4 linked regions of the Homo sapiens genome follow. The protein of the gene in region 1 interacts with the protein of each later gene in a pairwise test. Each region holds a gene or a part of one and is shown in the gene's direction. Other genes may lie near its edges.

Region 1 (3,765 bases):
AAATAAAACAAAAGCCTTTTGCGTTATTTTGCACCGAGGATTGTGTTAAAAACAAAGTTGCATTATGGTTTCCAGATTGGCATCCTTGTTTTTTTCTATCATTTTAGGCCCCTTTCAGGCTGTTATCAGCATAGCATATCCAGGATTGCTTTGGCCTTGCTCAGTGGGTATGTGCGTTCTTTGAAGTTCTTACCTGACAGATGTGGGCAGCTGGCTTTACACAAGGAAGAGTTGTTTAAAGAGCTTTGGTATGGAAACAAAGTTACTAAACTTGACAGTCACTTGAGGATTATTTAAAAAACAAACAAAATAACTGAATGTGGTAAAATACTATCTCTAGAATATTTTTCAAACTGTTAAATGCATCCTTTTAACAGAAGCTGTTGATGTCTACAAACACTGTCTTTGTAGACAAAGACAAACCCCCCTTGCATGGGGGTTTGGGGGTTGGGAAGCAGTTGAGAAAATGGCATAGTCCCGTGAGAAAACCTTGGAATACTTTCTTTTAATAACATTTTTTTATTGCATAGAACTGTAAAGCTACAGAAATGCTTTCTTGGAGTTTTCCTTCATCCTTTCAGAAGGGCTAATATTGACCTTTGGTTAGCATGTTAGTATTTTCACCTGTGTCAAGTGATGTCTTCACGCTTTTGGGGGGTGTGTGTGTGCATGCCCACCTCGTGTTGTGTAGGGCACATTGGCCGATACCTATAATGTGTTTCAATTACTACATTGTTGGCATTTCAGTAGGCTCCTTCAGCCTTTGCCCATCTGGGAAGTGGAGACTAGGGCAATAAATGTTTTAGGGGTAGATTGAGACTGCAGTGTTTTTCATCTTTTAGCTTGTACTTTAAGACAATGGGATGTACCCCTAGACCATTTACCTAGATTTAAATTACTTCCTTGTGATGTGGTTTAGAGCTCTAAGTTCCTTGAGTTGTCTTGAAAGGCTGAAGGGTGCTCAGAGAATGGAGGGGAATTGAAAATGGAACCTAAGGATCTGGGAGTGGTCATATGTGTGAGTGGTGAAATGTGCCCCCCAACACCCCGTTGGGTCGGGTCTGGAGTTAAAAGCAGTGGCTGACATACATTTTGCAATATAAGGGTAAAGAAAGGTAAAGAAGGAACAAACATTTCTAGAGGATAAATGCTTTAATTCCAGAAGATAGGCCACACAGTTTAGGAACTGTGGTAAGAGGTGCTTTGCCATATTTATGTTACTGTTTAATCTGTGTAACAATCGTATGAGATGACTTAGTCAGTGGCTAGGTAACTTTCTGCTGGATGAGGCTGCACTAGTAAATGGTGGCACAGGCAAAGCCTTGTACTTTCCCTCATACCAGTATCAGCTCATTAGAGTTAACTCATAAAGGGGTTTGTTCTTGAGAGAGGGAGGCAGAGAATTTAAAACCATTAATGAAGTATTAATAGCTGTCAGGACAATTTCTTAAGAACATCAATTCATTAAGAGTTATTCTCTGAATTTTTTAGGAGGGATTTCTTGCCCTACTTTTGAAAAAGTTCAGACAGATGACTCCAAAGAATGTTTGATTTCTCTTGTGAATATTCACTTTTATATCAGATTCTGATGGTTTCTTGATTCTATATATTTAGAAAGCATTCGGCCGGGCATGGTGGCTCATGCCTGTAATCCCAGCACGTTGGGAGGCTGAGGCAGGCAGATCAACTGAGGTCAGGAGTTCGAGACCAGCCTGACCAACATGGAGAAACCCCATCTCTACTAAAAATACAAAATTAGCCGGGCATGGTAGCGCATGCCTGTAATCCCAGCTACTTGGGAGGCTGAGGCAGGAGAATCGCTTGAACCTGGAAGACGGAGGTTGCGGTGAGCCGAGATCCCGCCATCGCACTCCAGCCTGGGCAACAAGAGCAAAACTCTGTCTCAAAAAAAAAAAAAAACAAAACACATTAACTTGTGGGTAATTTGTCCTTCTGCTATCCAGTCTTTGGAAGGCAGGGCAAAGCTTGTGTGTGGTAGAGATTTCATAGGCTTGCAGGTTTGTAGAGTGGGAATTCAAGAAGTTGTAAAGGGCACTTATTAAGATAGGAATGTCTAAAATAAATGATCTTTAGCAGTGCCACCTTAAACTTTGTAAGTGTTGCTACAAAACCTTTAGTTCTGCATGCTCCTGACCAGCCATTGCCTTGGACAGAGAAACAAATAAGGGTGAGTTAATAAACTAGAGACTTGTCTCAATTGTTCAAAGAGGTAAACTTAAGGTGATTAAAAAGTGCTGTTTTATTCTGTATGAGATACACTTTGGGAAGTCGTCATTTTCCAAGACGATGATACGCCAGGCATACGAATTGGATCAGAAAGGATTTAGAGACATGCATGGATATAATGATCTCTTACAGATGTTCCTCACCTTACAGCGGAGTTACATCCTCAGAAACCCATTGTCAGTTGAAAATATTATAAGTTGAAAACATATTAGATACAGCTTAACCTACCCAACATCATAGCCTTGTCTACCTTAAACATACTCAGAACCCTTAAGTTAGCCTCCAGTTGCACAAAGTCATCTAGCACAAAGCCTATTGTATGATAAAGTATTGAATATCTCATGTACTGCATATTACTAGCCTGGGAAGAGATCAAAATTCAAAATATGTCAAAATTATGATGGCTTCACACCATTGTAAAATTGAAAAATCGCAAGTCAAACCAATCGGGGATTGTCTGTACATAAGAGATGATTGTCCAAATTAGAGCTGTTTTGGGTTTCTGCCCTTTGCAGATCCTTTGAGGTTTTCTTTATAGACAGATGACTCCTTCTGGGGGAATTGAGCGTGACTCTGATTGAGATTTGGTTCAGTTACCACATACTGAAAGCTTCCTGTGGGCCAGGCACTAGGTTGCACTGGGGACCTGGGAGGAAGGCCTAGCCCTTAAAGTTTCCAGCCTCTAGGTATTGGGAGACGAGGGAAAATGGGGACAAGATATTTATGGCCTGTCCTTATTGAGAGCTTAGAAAAAGCTGTGTTAATTCTGCTTTGGGTGTTCGATCTCACAGGGAAGATGGCATTTGAGATATGTGACTTGGCGAGCTTACACTGTGCGCTTGCCATTTTTCTAAGCGTTCATTTATTTAATTCTTAATGCAAGCCTAGGAAGTGGGTACAGTTATGATCCTGAAGTTATTAACCCAAGTTATGAACCTGACTGAGGGTTGGAGCTGGGATTTGAATCAAGATCTGTCTGATTGCAAAGGCTATGGCTTTTTTTTTTTTTGTCGTCATGCTGGCTGTGTTTCTTCCCTTAAAAGATAAGTGGGAGTGTGCCCTTGGCTTTCTTATTTATTATGTTAGGAAGATGAGAGGAGGAGTGAGACTAGAGAAAGAGGCTTGAAAGAGAAATGGGATAGAAAAATAAAGGAAAAGGCTGGGCACAGTGGCTCACACCTGTAATCCCAGCACTTTGGGAGTCTGAGGTGGGTGGATCACCTGAGGTCAGGAGTTCGAGACCAGCGTGACCAACATAGTGAAACCCCATCTCTACTAAAAATACAAAAGTTAGCCGGGCGTGGTGGTGCATGCCTGTAATCCAGGTACTGGGGAGGCTGAGGCAGGAGAACCGCTTCAGCTGGGGAGGTGGAGGTTGCAGTGAGCCGAGATCGTGCCATTGTACTCCAGCCTGGGCAACAAGAGCAAAACTCCGTCTCAAAAAAAAAAAAGAGAGAAAAAGAAAGAAAAAGTGCCTTATTATAATTGTAGTCTTGTAATTGTCTCGTTGGCACCTCT
Region 2 (4,088 bases), on another chromosome or scaffold:
GGACTCGCCAGCATACCTGTCATCATACCACATCACTGCTGTCTCCAACAACTGGCCCCTCTGGGGGGGCAGCTCCAGCTCTGCCCACATCGCCTTTCCCGGATACAGAAACGATCTAACAAGCCAAGCCACGTCCACTTTCTATACTGATTCAGTAGTTAACCTCTGGATTCATCCCTGAAGCACTGAACTACCTGTGTGGCTGAGATACTCAGTCTGCTTGCTGGTTCCCTTGGCAAGGAAGGTGTCTCACTTGAAGTCTCCTTGAAAACCCTACTTGACAAAAAGGCAAGCTTGGGCAGCCCATTCGACCACCCAAGCTCCTACCCCCAAACATTAGACGCATTTTCCACGTGCTGCTGGGCACGTGCACATCAACATTCGTTTCCCTCCCAAAACGCGTCAATTCCAGGAGGCTCAGATAGGATCAGCTTTCACCTCCAAAAACGTGAGAAAACGCCTTCCTAAACCATTAGGCACTTCCCGAAGCCAGTGTGGGAACAAAAGGTGGGTCTGGGACCCGCAGCCCCCAAGAGAGCTCGAAGGTCCCAGAGAGAACACTGCCGGCTCCACCCTTCGAGGCCCAGTGTTTTGGGTCAGAAGCCCAAGTGCGAGCCTAACATCCGACTGAGTCACCCACTTTCATGACTCAGGCCTTGTGGCCCACTCGGCCGGGTGCTCGTCGGTCAAGAGGAAATCGGCCGAATGCCCGGGCCCGCGGAGGAGCGAGGTCGCCGAGCGCCCCTGGCGCCCTGCGCGGACCCTCGCAGAGCCCCATTTGCCAACGCCCGACGGACGCCGACCCCACGGCCGCGCCGAGGGTCCAGGATCGGCGGCTCCGAACCCGGGAGGACAGCGGGCCGGGGAGAGGCGGGCAGGGCGGCCGGTCCGCGCCCCTCGGGCCCTCGGGGCCGCGCTGACTCAGCGCCGGGCGGAGGCTGCGGGCTGACCAAGGCCGAGCCGTCGGGTGGGGACGCGTTACCTAGGAGACGCTCGAAGGTGCCGCTGCCTCGCCCCATGGCGACCTCCAGCCCAAACCCGACGCCGCGGGCGCTCCCCTGCTACGAGCTGGCGCGCCCCCCGACTTCCGCTTCCGCCTTTTCCCTCCAGTGCGCGCACGCGCACGTCACCGCGCCGGCCCTAGAGCCGCGAGGAGGCGGGGTCTTCCGCTCTCCCGCTAACGCTGCGCGCTAATTGGACGCGCCCTTGGAACAATGAGCCCTAAGAACCAATGAGAAGTCCGAAGGTGAGAACTATCCAATGAGAGTGGCCGGTGGGCGGGCCTTGAGCCGCGGCGCCGAGCTACGGGTGCCGGGTGGAGCGAAGCACGGAATGTGTCTCCTGCTGGGGGCCACGGGCGTCGGGAAGACGCTGCTGGTGAAACGGCTGCAGGATATCCTTCCGCGCGGGGACGGGACCGGGGCGCGGGGGGCACCCGGAGTGGGGCGGGGACTCACCCTTTAGCTGCTCGGGTCCTTGACCGCTTCGCACAGGTGAGCTCCCGGGATGGGAAAGGCGACCTGGGGGAGCCGCCCCCGACACGGCCCACGGTAGGTGTCCGCCCCCGCGGGTGGAGTTGCGGGGGGTCAGTTCTGCGCTTGGCGAAGAGCTCCGGGCTCCTCTAAGTGCACGCCGAGGCGCAGCGGGTCAGGTCGTGACTTAAGGCCAGCCTTCGGGAGCGGGGGACGGCCCGAGCTGAGGATAATTGGCGCGGGATGAGGGGGCCTGCCGCCCTCCACGGGCACTTCCTCTCCCCTCGCAACGGCTTCCTGTGGCTGGTCGCCCCCACAGCGAGTCCAGCTACTGATGGGCGTCGGTCCCTGCTCGCCGTTCCTGCGTTAGGGAGAATGGGTCTGCGGGGTTCAGGCCACCGTGTAAGGTGTGGGCACGGTGCTCTTCAGGAGTTCACAACGGGACAGCGGTTGTATTGTTCTTTTTGCATCGTGGTTTTTCCTATAGGTGGGCACCAATCTTACTGACATCGTGGCACAGAGAAAGATCACCATCCGGGAGCTTGGGGGGTGCATGGGCCCCATCTGGTCCAGTTACTATGGAAACTGCCGTTCTCTCCTGGTGGGTTGTAATCCTATATGGGCTTCCTTTAGGGAAGTGTGTCTACATTTCTGTGACGTCCAGTCCCCAACCTTGCTGTGTGTAGAAAGGGGTTTGGGTTATTTAGTGACTATACTACTCATGGAAATAGGTCTTAGCTAGTGTTGCTTCCTGCTGGGCACCCTGTCTGGTTTCTGGTGCTTGCGCTCCCAGGCCCCCGGTAGGAGCTCACAGAGGGCTTGCTGAGGGCAGGGCTGCTGCTCCGCAGAGAACAGACTTGGCCCTCTGTGTCACTCCCCGGTACGTCTGTGTTTATGTTGGACTTATACGTACCTCTGGTTGGTCTCATCTTGATAAGGCCTGTGCCGCGGATACCAGTATGGAGAACTGATGGCCACATGAGGACAGAGACGAGTGACACCAGGTCGTCTTCATAAAACTCGATTCCCTCTGCTTCTGCTTGTTCCCAAAGCTTTGTTTAAAGCTACTTTGGGCCGGGCGCGGTGGCTTACTCCTGTAATCCCAGCACTTTGGGAAGCTGAGGTGGGCGAATCACGAGGTCAGGAGATGGAGACCATCCTGACTAACATGGTGAAACCCCGTCTCTACTAAAAGTACAAAAAATTAGCCAGGCGTGGTGGCGGGTGTCTGTAGTCCCAGTTACTTGGGAGGCTGAGGCAGGAGAATCACTTGAACCCTGAACCCTGGAGGCGGAGTTTCAGTGAGCCGAGATCGTGCCACTGCACTCGGAGCGAGACTTCGTCTCAAAAAATAAATTAATTAATTAAAAAATGCAGTTTTGCTCTCCCAGTGCCAGGTCTGTGAGGCCCAGGGGAGGAAGTTTGGCAGCGGGGCATTGCTGCTGTCTTTTTCTTTTTCCCCAGTTTGTGATGGACGCCTCTGACCCCACCCAGCTCTCTGCATCCTGTGTGCAGCTCTTAGGTCTCCTTTCTGCAGAACAACTTGCAGAAGCATCGGTGCTGATACTCTTCAATAAAATGTACGCGTCCCTGAGCTGAGAGGGAGCACAGCGGGGGCGGGGGCTCCCTCGGGTTACAGCCGGAAGCATGGCTCGGTAGGGAGGTGGTGCAGCTGGGGGTCCGGGGCAGGTGTGTGGCTGCCACTGCTCTGATGGGGCACCTCTTTCTCTCCAGCGACCTACCCTGTTACATGTCCACGGAGGAGATGAAGTCATTAATCAGGCTTCCAGACATCATTGCTTGTGCCAAGCAGAACATCACCACGGCAGAAATCAGCGCCCGTGAAGGCACTGGCTTAGCAGGGGTGCTGGCCTGGCTCCAGGCCACCCACAGAGCCAACGATTGACTGCACGGCAGAGGCGCAGCTGGCCTGAGCTGGGGAGAGGTGGCAGAGGGCAGTATGGCTTTGCTGCCAATAGTTTCTTCTCACAGGGGCAGAATAACCCAAAGTAACCCTACATGATGGGGCTCTGTGCTGAGATGCAATGATGTGTAAACTGAGGCATGTGGAGATGGAAGTTGACATCTGGCCTCTGAAAAAAGTGTCCCCAGGGGCTAGGCATGGTGGCTCACACCTGTAATCCCAGCACTTTGAGAGGCCGAGGCGGGTGTATCACCTGAGGTCGGGAGTTCGAGACTAGCCTGACCAACATGGAGAAACCCTGTCTCTACTAAAAATACAAAATTAGCTGGGTGTGCTGGTGCATGCCTGTAATCTCAGCTACTTGGGAGGCTGAGACAGGAGAATCCCTTGAACCTGGGAGGTGGAGGTTGCAGTGAGTCGAGATCATGCCATTGCACTGCACCTGGGCAACAAGAGTGAAACTCCGTCTTAAAAAATATAAGAAATAAAAAAATAAAAACCTGTCCCCAGACTGGATGAGCAGGGCCTGCAGATGGCCGAGTGTTCTGTATCTTAGAGTGGTGCTATTGGGGTTGGCTCACCTCCTTCCTGGAGACCTGCTGGACTGCCCCCAAGGCGTATGGACTGCACAGTGCCACTGAAACCTGGCCTCTTGCTGTAGCACAACCTCCAACCTGCTGAGCCGCTGGTAC
Region 3 (3,500 bases), on another chromosome or scaffold:
GCTGATTTCCAAGCTACTAGAATGTAAGTGATCTTCACTTATCTGGGAAATTGTCCCTCTGGACTGAACTAAAGCTCACTCTGATAGTTTCTTTCCATCACTGAAAGTACAAATATAGTCTGGAAATAACTTTACTGAGAATTTTATTTTCTTCTGTTGGCCATTGACATCACATTCATTCATTCACTCACTTAGCAAATATTTATTAAGTGCATACTGTGTGCCAGGCAGTGTTCCAGGCTCTGAGGATACAGCAGTGAACAAAGTCATGGCCCTCTGGGATCACTTATTCTGAAGGATGGGGGTAGGAATATATATAATATGTATAGATAATATAATATATAATATGTATAGATAGTGTAATATGTAATATGTGAGATGGTGATAAGTACTAACAAGAAAGTAAAGTAGAGAAGAAATCTAAGAAATGCTGGGCATTTGGGGGTGAGGGGTTGTATTTTCTTTTTAAAGGATGGCCAGGGAAGACCTCACTGAGAAGGTGGCATTCATATAAAGACCCAAAGGAAGTCAGGAATAGGAGGAAGAGAGAAGTACAGCCTATTTATCTTCTTTCTTTAATACAGTAAGTTAGCTACTTGTGTTGCCCAAGCTACCAAAATTGGATTAATTTCTAAAGAACCCTCAACAGATAATTAAATATCAACCATTTTATGAGGCATGTAAGTGTAGGTGGCAGGGGCTAGGAGAGGGGGGAGACAGGAAAATATAGTAGTGGTGTCCTGCTATTTAAAAAACAAACCCTTTTCAGAGAGTCCCTTATTCTCATTATCCTTAAGAGAGGAGGTTGGATTGTTTTCCCTACCAGCCTGCCTCCTGCTGTATCTTACAATGAAATCTTCAGCCACAACTGCGTTTGCTGTCTCTTCCTATGAAATAACTCTCAGAATGCTTAATTTGACTTCCTATAGGTTGAGTAGAAATGGGCTGAGAGGCAGGGAGCCTTAACATAATATGGGGAGACAAAGAGGACTATAAAACAAGAAGGTAAATGGTGTGAGCTCAAGTGTCTTGGGTATTGCTAGGTTCTTTCCAGTTTGAACATCCCTTATTACTGGTTTCCTGAAGTCTTCTTATGTCCCTGCTCTGCCTGTAGTTTGCTGAGAATGAGGCTTCTGCATTGTTGGATCCCAATTTTACCTAAGCATGGAGCTTTGACTTTTCTAACTAATTCTTTAATTTTTTGATACTTGGCCATTAGACTCTGACATATTACCTTATAGAATGAATTCAGCAAATAAATTATAATTCATGATATTAATTTTCATTCTCCACCCTCAGCATCTGTGAGCGGGTAACTCCCCGGCTATCCCATGCCAACTCAGCAGTGGTGCTTTCAGCGGTAAAAGTCCTAATGAAGTTTCTAGAATTGTTACCTAAGGATTCTGACTACTACAATATGCTGCTGAAGAAGTTAGCCCCTCCACTTGTCACTTTGCTGTCTGGGGAGCCAGAAGTGCAGTATGTCGCCCTGAGGAACATCAACTTAATTGTCCAGAAAAGGTTGGGAAATAGCGAAGTGTTGATTAAAGTGTTTGTAATTTTGCATTAAGCTTAATAATGTCAATGTTAATTAGGCTAGTGTTAATCTCTTTTTAATATATGGAAATGAAAATGTTATATGGCAGAAAAACTTGCTTGCCTAGCACCAGGAGGCTAACAGTTGATATTACAGTGTTTCTATAATAAATGCCATGCGTTGCTCCACAATCCAGTTTGTTTTCTGAAGGGTCTCTTTCTGATATACTGTCTAGTGCCTGGTTGATATGGTTCAGGCTGTAGTTTAGAGCCAGATTGTTGTTCTAGCAGTTCTTCATGGCAACATGTGCCCTGATGCTTAAAAAGGATAAAAATAATCTGCCAAGTGGAACTGATAAGAATAGAGGCGTATAGAGGAAGTTTATGCTTTTTTTTTTTTTTTTTTTTTTTTGCCTGAGTGGAGCGAGAGGAGAGCAGAGAGGCACAGATTAGGTATTAATACAGTCTCAGAAGGGTATATCAGTATATGCCTTCACCTTCCTTTCTTCTGTTTCTGTGTACCCTAGGCCTGAAATCTTGAAGCAGGAAATCAAAGTCTTCTTTGTGAAGTACAATGATCCCATCTATGTTAAACTAGAGAAGTTGGACATCATGATTCGTTTGGCATCTCAAGCCAACATTGCTCAGGTCAGACTTTATGCAGACTCAAGTTGATGATGATTTAGCTCTTAAGGTCTGGCCTTTAAAGAAGCTAGGCTGTGAGATTGCTATTTGAGAATCCTTAATGATTAACCACTTCCTGGGTTTAACAGGTTCTGGCAGAACTGAAAGAATATGCTACAGAGGTGGATGTTGACTTTGTTCGAAAAGCTGTGCGGGCCATTGGACGGTGTGCCATCAAGGTGGAGGCAAGTGTCTGATGGTAGTTAGGATCATGTATTGGGGATTCTGAGAGTTCTCTTCACTTTTTTCTTTAAAATAATTTTTAAGTTTATCAAAATAATAAAGCACACAGTTTCAATGTTAAAGAATTTTTAATGGAAAGCAGCTGTCTCTGGTTCCTCCCTTCCCTACCTAGACTTTCTTCTCAGAGGGAATATTTTTAACTCTGATTTTGCTTTTAGTTATTCTTTTGATTAAAATAGGTCCTCCATATCCATGAGTTCCACATCCGTGGATTCAGCTAACTGCGGATCAAAAATATTCAGGGGAAAAGAAAAAGGATGGTTTTGTCTGTACTGAACATGTACAGACCTTTTTTTGTCTATATTCCTTAAAAATATAACAATTATTTACATAGTATTTACATTGCATTAGGTATTATAAATAATCTAGAGATGGTTTAAAGTATACAAGAGAATGTGTATAAATGCAAATACTATACCATTTTATGTAAGGCACTTAAGCATCCATGGATTTTGGTATCCACAGGGGCCCAGGAACCAATCTCCCATGGATTTGGAGACATGACTGGGCTGCCATATCTCTAAATAATATTCTTGGCTGGGTGCAGTGGCTCACACCTGTAATCCCAGCACTTTGGGAGGCCAAGGTGAGAGGACTGCTTGAGCCCAGCAGTTTGAGACCACCCTAGGCAACATAGTAAGGCTCTGTTTCTACAAAAACTTTTTTAAGTTAGCTGGGTGTGGTGGCACACACCTGTAGTCCCAGCTACTTGGAAGGCTGAGGCAGGAAGATTGCTTGAGTCTGGGAGGCTGAGACTGTAGTAAGCTGTTATTGTGCCACTGCACTCCAACCTGAAACCTTTTCACTCTGGGTGACAGAGCAAGACGCTGTCTCAAAAAAAGAACAACAATAATATTCTTATGCTATTATTTATTAATTTACCTATCATAGACTTTTTCTGTTAACTATCTGCTATAAGAAGTTTACTTCATACACCCACCATTCCCACTTCCGTCTCCTGTTTTCCAGTGTAGTTACATAATGAAGGTTTTTGTTCCTATATCCATTATCATGGTAGATTGAAATAATATGCCTTT
Region 4 (3,049 bases), on another chromosome or scaffold:
TTTTTGGTTAAAATATTCAACTCAGTTTACTTAAGCAATTTGGTTACTAGCTGTAAAATAGTGTACAATTAAACTTGGTAAGAAATACTAGAAAAAATTAGAAATACCAAGACATATATTTTGTATTTCTTTACCAAGACTGGCATAGTTTTGTATTTATTAAATAAAGCCTCTGTGGAATTAATTTTTAATATGTGTTTTTATCAGGACTCTCAAATTGCAGACATACTGTCAACATCTGGGACTGTAGTTACTATTACAATCATGCCTGCTTTTATCTTTGAACATATTATTAAGCGGTAAGTAAACAATTCCTCAACTTAATGCATATGGTCATGTGACTTAATATAAGCACTATACTTTAATTCTCAGCCCTTTGGTTCTTTTACCCAAGGAATGGATACTGGTGTTTTATCTAGAAATTTGAAGTAAGTTATTTAAATCAGAGGGTTGGTAAGGATGAGCTCTTACAACTTCCCAAGTACGGAATAAAATTCACATATACTTTCCTCAGTTTTTATAATGCCTGGTAGAAAAAAGGTATGCAAGGAGAAGTGGGCATGCTTTCAGCTTTCAATTTGCAGTGCAATTGACTGCAGTTGCACTGCCTACCACCCCTCTGCTCAGTATAAATATAGTTGTGGTGGTTCGTAATGGAGAATTCTTGCTGGTGGAATGCTAAGAGTAAGTTTCCCTTCTCTCCAGAATCTCAAGAGGCAGATAGACAAGTGTGGTGTGTTGGTGCTATCTGTGCTCAGGAACTGAGGATTAGAAAGCCAAGTGATCAGAACTGAAAAGAGGCAACAAGGTTCCTTCTATAGAGCTTTTCATATCCTAGCATCTACCATAGCTGTTTTTGTCAAGCCAGCTTGGAATCCTTTCAGAAGCTCTATTATGCATGTGAAAATGAGATTTAAAAGATTCATAAACATAACCATTGTAATGAAATTTTTGTGTTGGCTTCTGGATAGAATGCACCTAGCTACCCTTGGAGGGGGTAAAAAGGAGTTATTGTCATGACTAATTTTTCTAGGGTTCTCTTTTCTTAAATCACTGATGGATCCCTCTACCCCAACTCATCACAGCCTTGTCATTTTCTTTCTGTTTTTTAAAAATCACCATGTTTAATGCACAGGAATTCATTTGTATCCTAACTTCTCTAGCCAAATACAGATAGTCTTTCCCACTGAGTGTCTGTCAACAACTAGATTACCAGAGATGCTTCTGGACTCATTTAAAAGATCTTTCCCTTCTCTCCATTCATATTTGATGCTAACAGGTGCTAAATTGGAATTGGGAATTTTCTTGGATTAATGTAGCATTTTGAAAAACAAAAACCAGAATCTCGGTATATAATAAAAGTACCTCTCTTGTAGGATGGCACCAAGCATTATGAAAAGCCTAATGGACCACACCATTCCTGAGGTTTAAAATTCACGGCACCATGGAAATGTAGCTGAACGTCTCCAGTTTCCTTCTTTGGCAACTTCTGTATTATGCACGTGAAGCCTTCCCGGAGCCAGCGAGCATATGCTGCATGAGGACCTTTCTATCTTACATTATGGCTGGGAATCTTACTCTTTCATCTGATACCTTGTTCAGATTTCAAAATAGTTGTAGCCTTATCCTGGTTTTACAGATGTGAAACTTTCAAGAGATTTACTGACTTTCCTAGAATAGTTTCTCTACTGGAAACCTGATGCTTTTATAAGCCATTGTGATTAGGATGACTGTTACAGGCTTAGCTTTGTGTGAAAACCAGTCACCTTTCTCCTAGGTAATGAGTAGTGCTGTTCATATTACTTTAGTTCTATAGCATACTTGCATCTTTAACATGCTATCATAGTACATTTAGAATGATTGCCTTTGATTTTTTTTTTAAATTCTGTGTGTGTGTGTGTAAAATGCCAATTAAGAACACTGGTTTCATTCCATGTAAGCATTAAACAGTGTATGTAGGTTTCAAGAGATTGTGATGATTCTTAAATTTTAACTACCTTCACTTAATATGCTTGAACTGTCGCCTTAACTATGTTAAGCATCTAGACTAAAAGCCAAAATATAATTATTGCTGCCTTTCTAAAAACCCAAAATGTAGTTCTCTATTAACCTGAAATGTACACTAGCCCAGAACAGTTTAATGGTACTTACTGAGCTATAGCATAGCTGCTTAGTTGTTTTTGAGATTTTTTAGTCAACACATAATGGAAACTTCTTTCTTCTAAAAGTTGCCAGTGCCACTTTTAAGAAGTGAATCACTATATGTGATGTAAAAGTTATTACACTAAACAGGATAAACTTTTGACTCCCCTTTTGTTCATTTGTGGATTAAGTGGTATAATACTTAATTTTGGCATTTGACTCTTAAGATTATGTAACCTAGCTACTTTGGGATGGTCTTAGAATATTTTTCTGATAACTTGTTCCTTTTCCTGACTCCTCCTTGCAAACAAAATGATAGTTGACACTTTATCCTGATTTTTTTCTTCTTTTTGGTTTATGTCTATTCTAATTAAATATGTATAAATAAAGTTACATTTTAGTCTGTCTATTACTGCATCATTTGCTTTCACCAAACTTATGCATGATCTAGAAGACAGGCAGGTGAAATTCACTTTCAGCTGTGGGAGACATCATCTCCCAGAACAAGCTGACATTCAGGGGCCCTAAGAACAGCTCTCAGTGCTGAGACTGAGTGTCAGGAAAATTGCTTCCAGCTGGGAACCCCAGATTACCAGGGCCAAAAGAAGAGCTGGTTCACACCTGCCATGCAGCAGGAACTCATTGAGGCTACTGATTGTCCCTAGCAATACCTGAGACCAGGTAATATTTAATAACACTGAAACTGACTTTGGAAATTCTATTAGTGTGGTCTGACTCAAGTTTTTTCTCCTATGTCATACTACCTGCAAGATACAACAATGTTTTTAAAGAGTATAGAAAAAATAATAAGTCACACACTTACCATGGTTCAGAGGTTGAATATAAAAGGAAATCTGCTACTGCTATACAGCTTACCTTGTTTGAAATTTAGAAGAGAAAAAAATAT

What was found. The genes of interacting proteins can lie anywhere in the genome.
Region 2: the proteins of VAPB (region 1) and ARL16 interact in binary tests that used the Homo sapiens proteins (3 or more experiments, as listed by UniProt).
Region 3: the proteins of VAPB (region 1) and AP2B1 interact in binary tests that used the Homo sapiens proteins (3 or more experiments, as listed by UniProt).
Region 4: the proteins of VAPB (region 1) and SDCBP interact in binary tests that used the Homo sapiens proteins (3 or more experiments, as listed by UniProt).

What each region holds. Positions count from the first base shown.
Region 1 is NC_000020.11:58,395,615-58,399,379, forward strand, and holds part of VAPB (vesicle-associated membrane protein-associated protein B/C), read left to right. Parts: intron 1-3,765. UniProt on the Homo sapiens protein: Endoplasmic reticulum (ER)-anchored protein that mediates the formation of contact sites between the ER and endosomes via interaction with FFAT motif-containing proteins such as STARD3 or WDR44.
Region 2 is NC_000017.11:81,680,998-81,685,085, reverse strand, and holds ARL16 (ADP-ribosylation factor-like protein 16), read left to right. Parts: upstream 1-1,288; 5' UTR 1,289-1,332; coding exon 1,333-1,393; exon of another isoform or gene 1,394-1,491; coding exon 1,492-1,550; intron 1,551-1,959; coding exon 1,960-2,073; intron 2,074-2,410; exon of another isoform or gene 2,411-2,843; coding exon of another isoform or gene 2,844-2,936; coding exon 2,937-3,052; intron 3,053-3,206; coding exon 3,207-3,378; 3' UTR 3,379-3,899; downstream 3,900-4,088. Other genes in the region: HGS (hepatocyte growth factor-regulated tyrosine kinase substrate), read right to left, coding at 983-1,019. UniProt on the Homo sapiens protein: May suppress the RNA sensing activity of RIGI in a GTP-dependent.
Region 3 is NC_000017.11:35,625,322-35,628,821, forward strand, and holds part of AP2B1 (AP-2 complex subunit beta), read left to right. Parts: intron 1-1,299; coding exon 1,300-1,521; intron 1,522-2,063; coding exon 2,064-2,184; intron 2,185-2,309; coding exon 2,310-2,405; intron 2,406-3,500. UniProt on the Homo sapiens protein: Component of the adaptor protein complex 2 (AP-2). Adaptor protein complexes function in protein transport via transport vesicles in different membrane traffic pathways.
Region 4 is NC_000008.11:58,580,310-58,583,358, forward strand, and holds the end of SDCBP (syntenin-1), read left to right. Parts: intron 1-207; coding exon 208-299; intron 300-1,376; coding exon 1,377-1,431; 3' UTR 1,432-2,549; downstream 2,550-3,049. UniProt on the Homo sapiens protein: Multifunctional adapter protein involved in diverse array of functions including trafficking of transmembrane proteins, neuro and immunomodulation, exosome biogenesis, and tumorigenesis.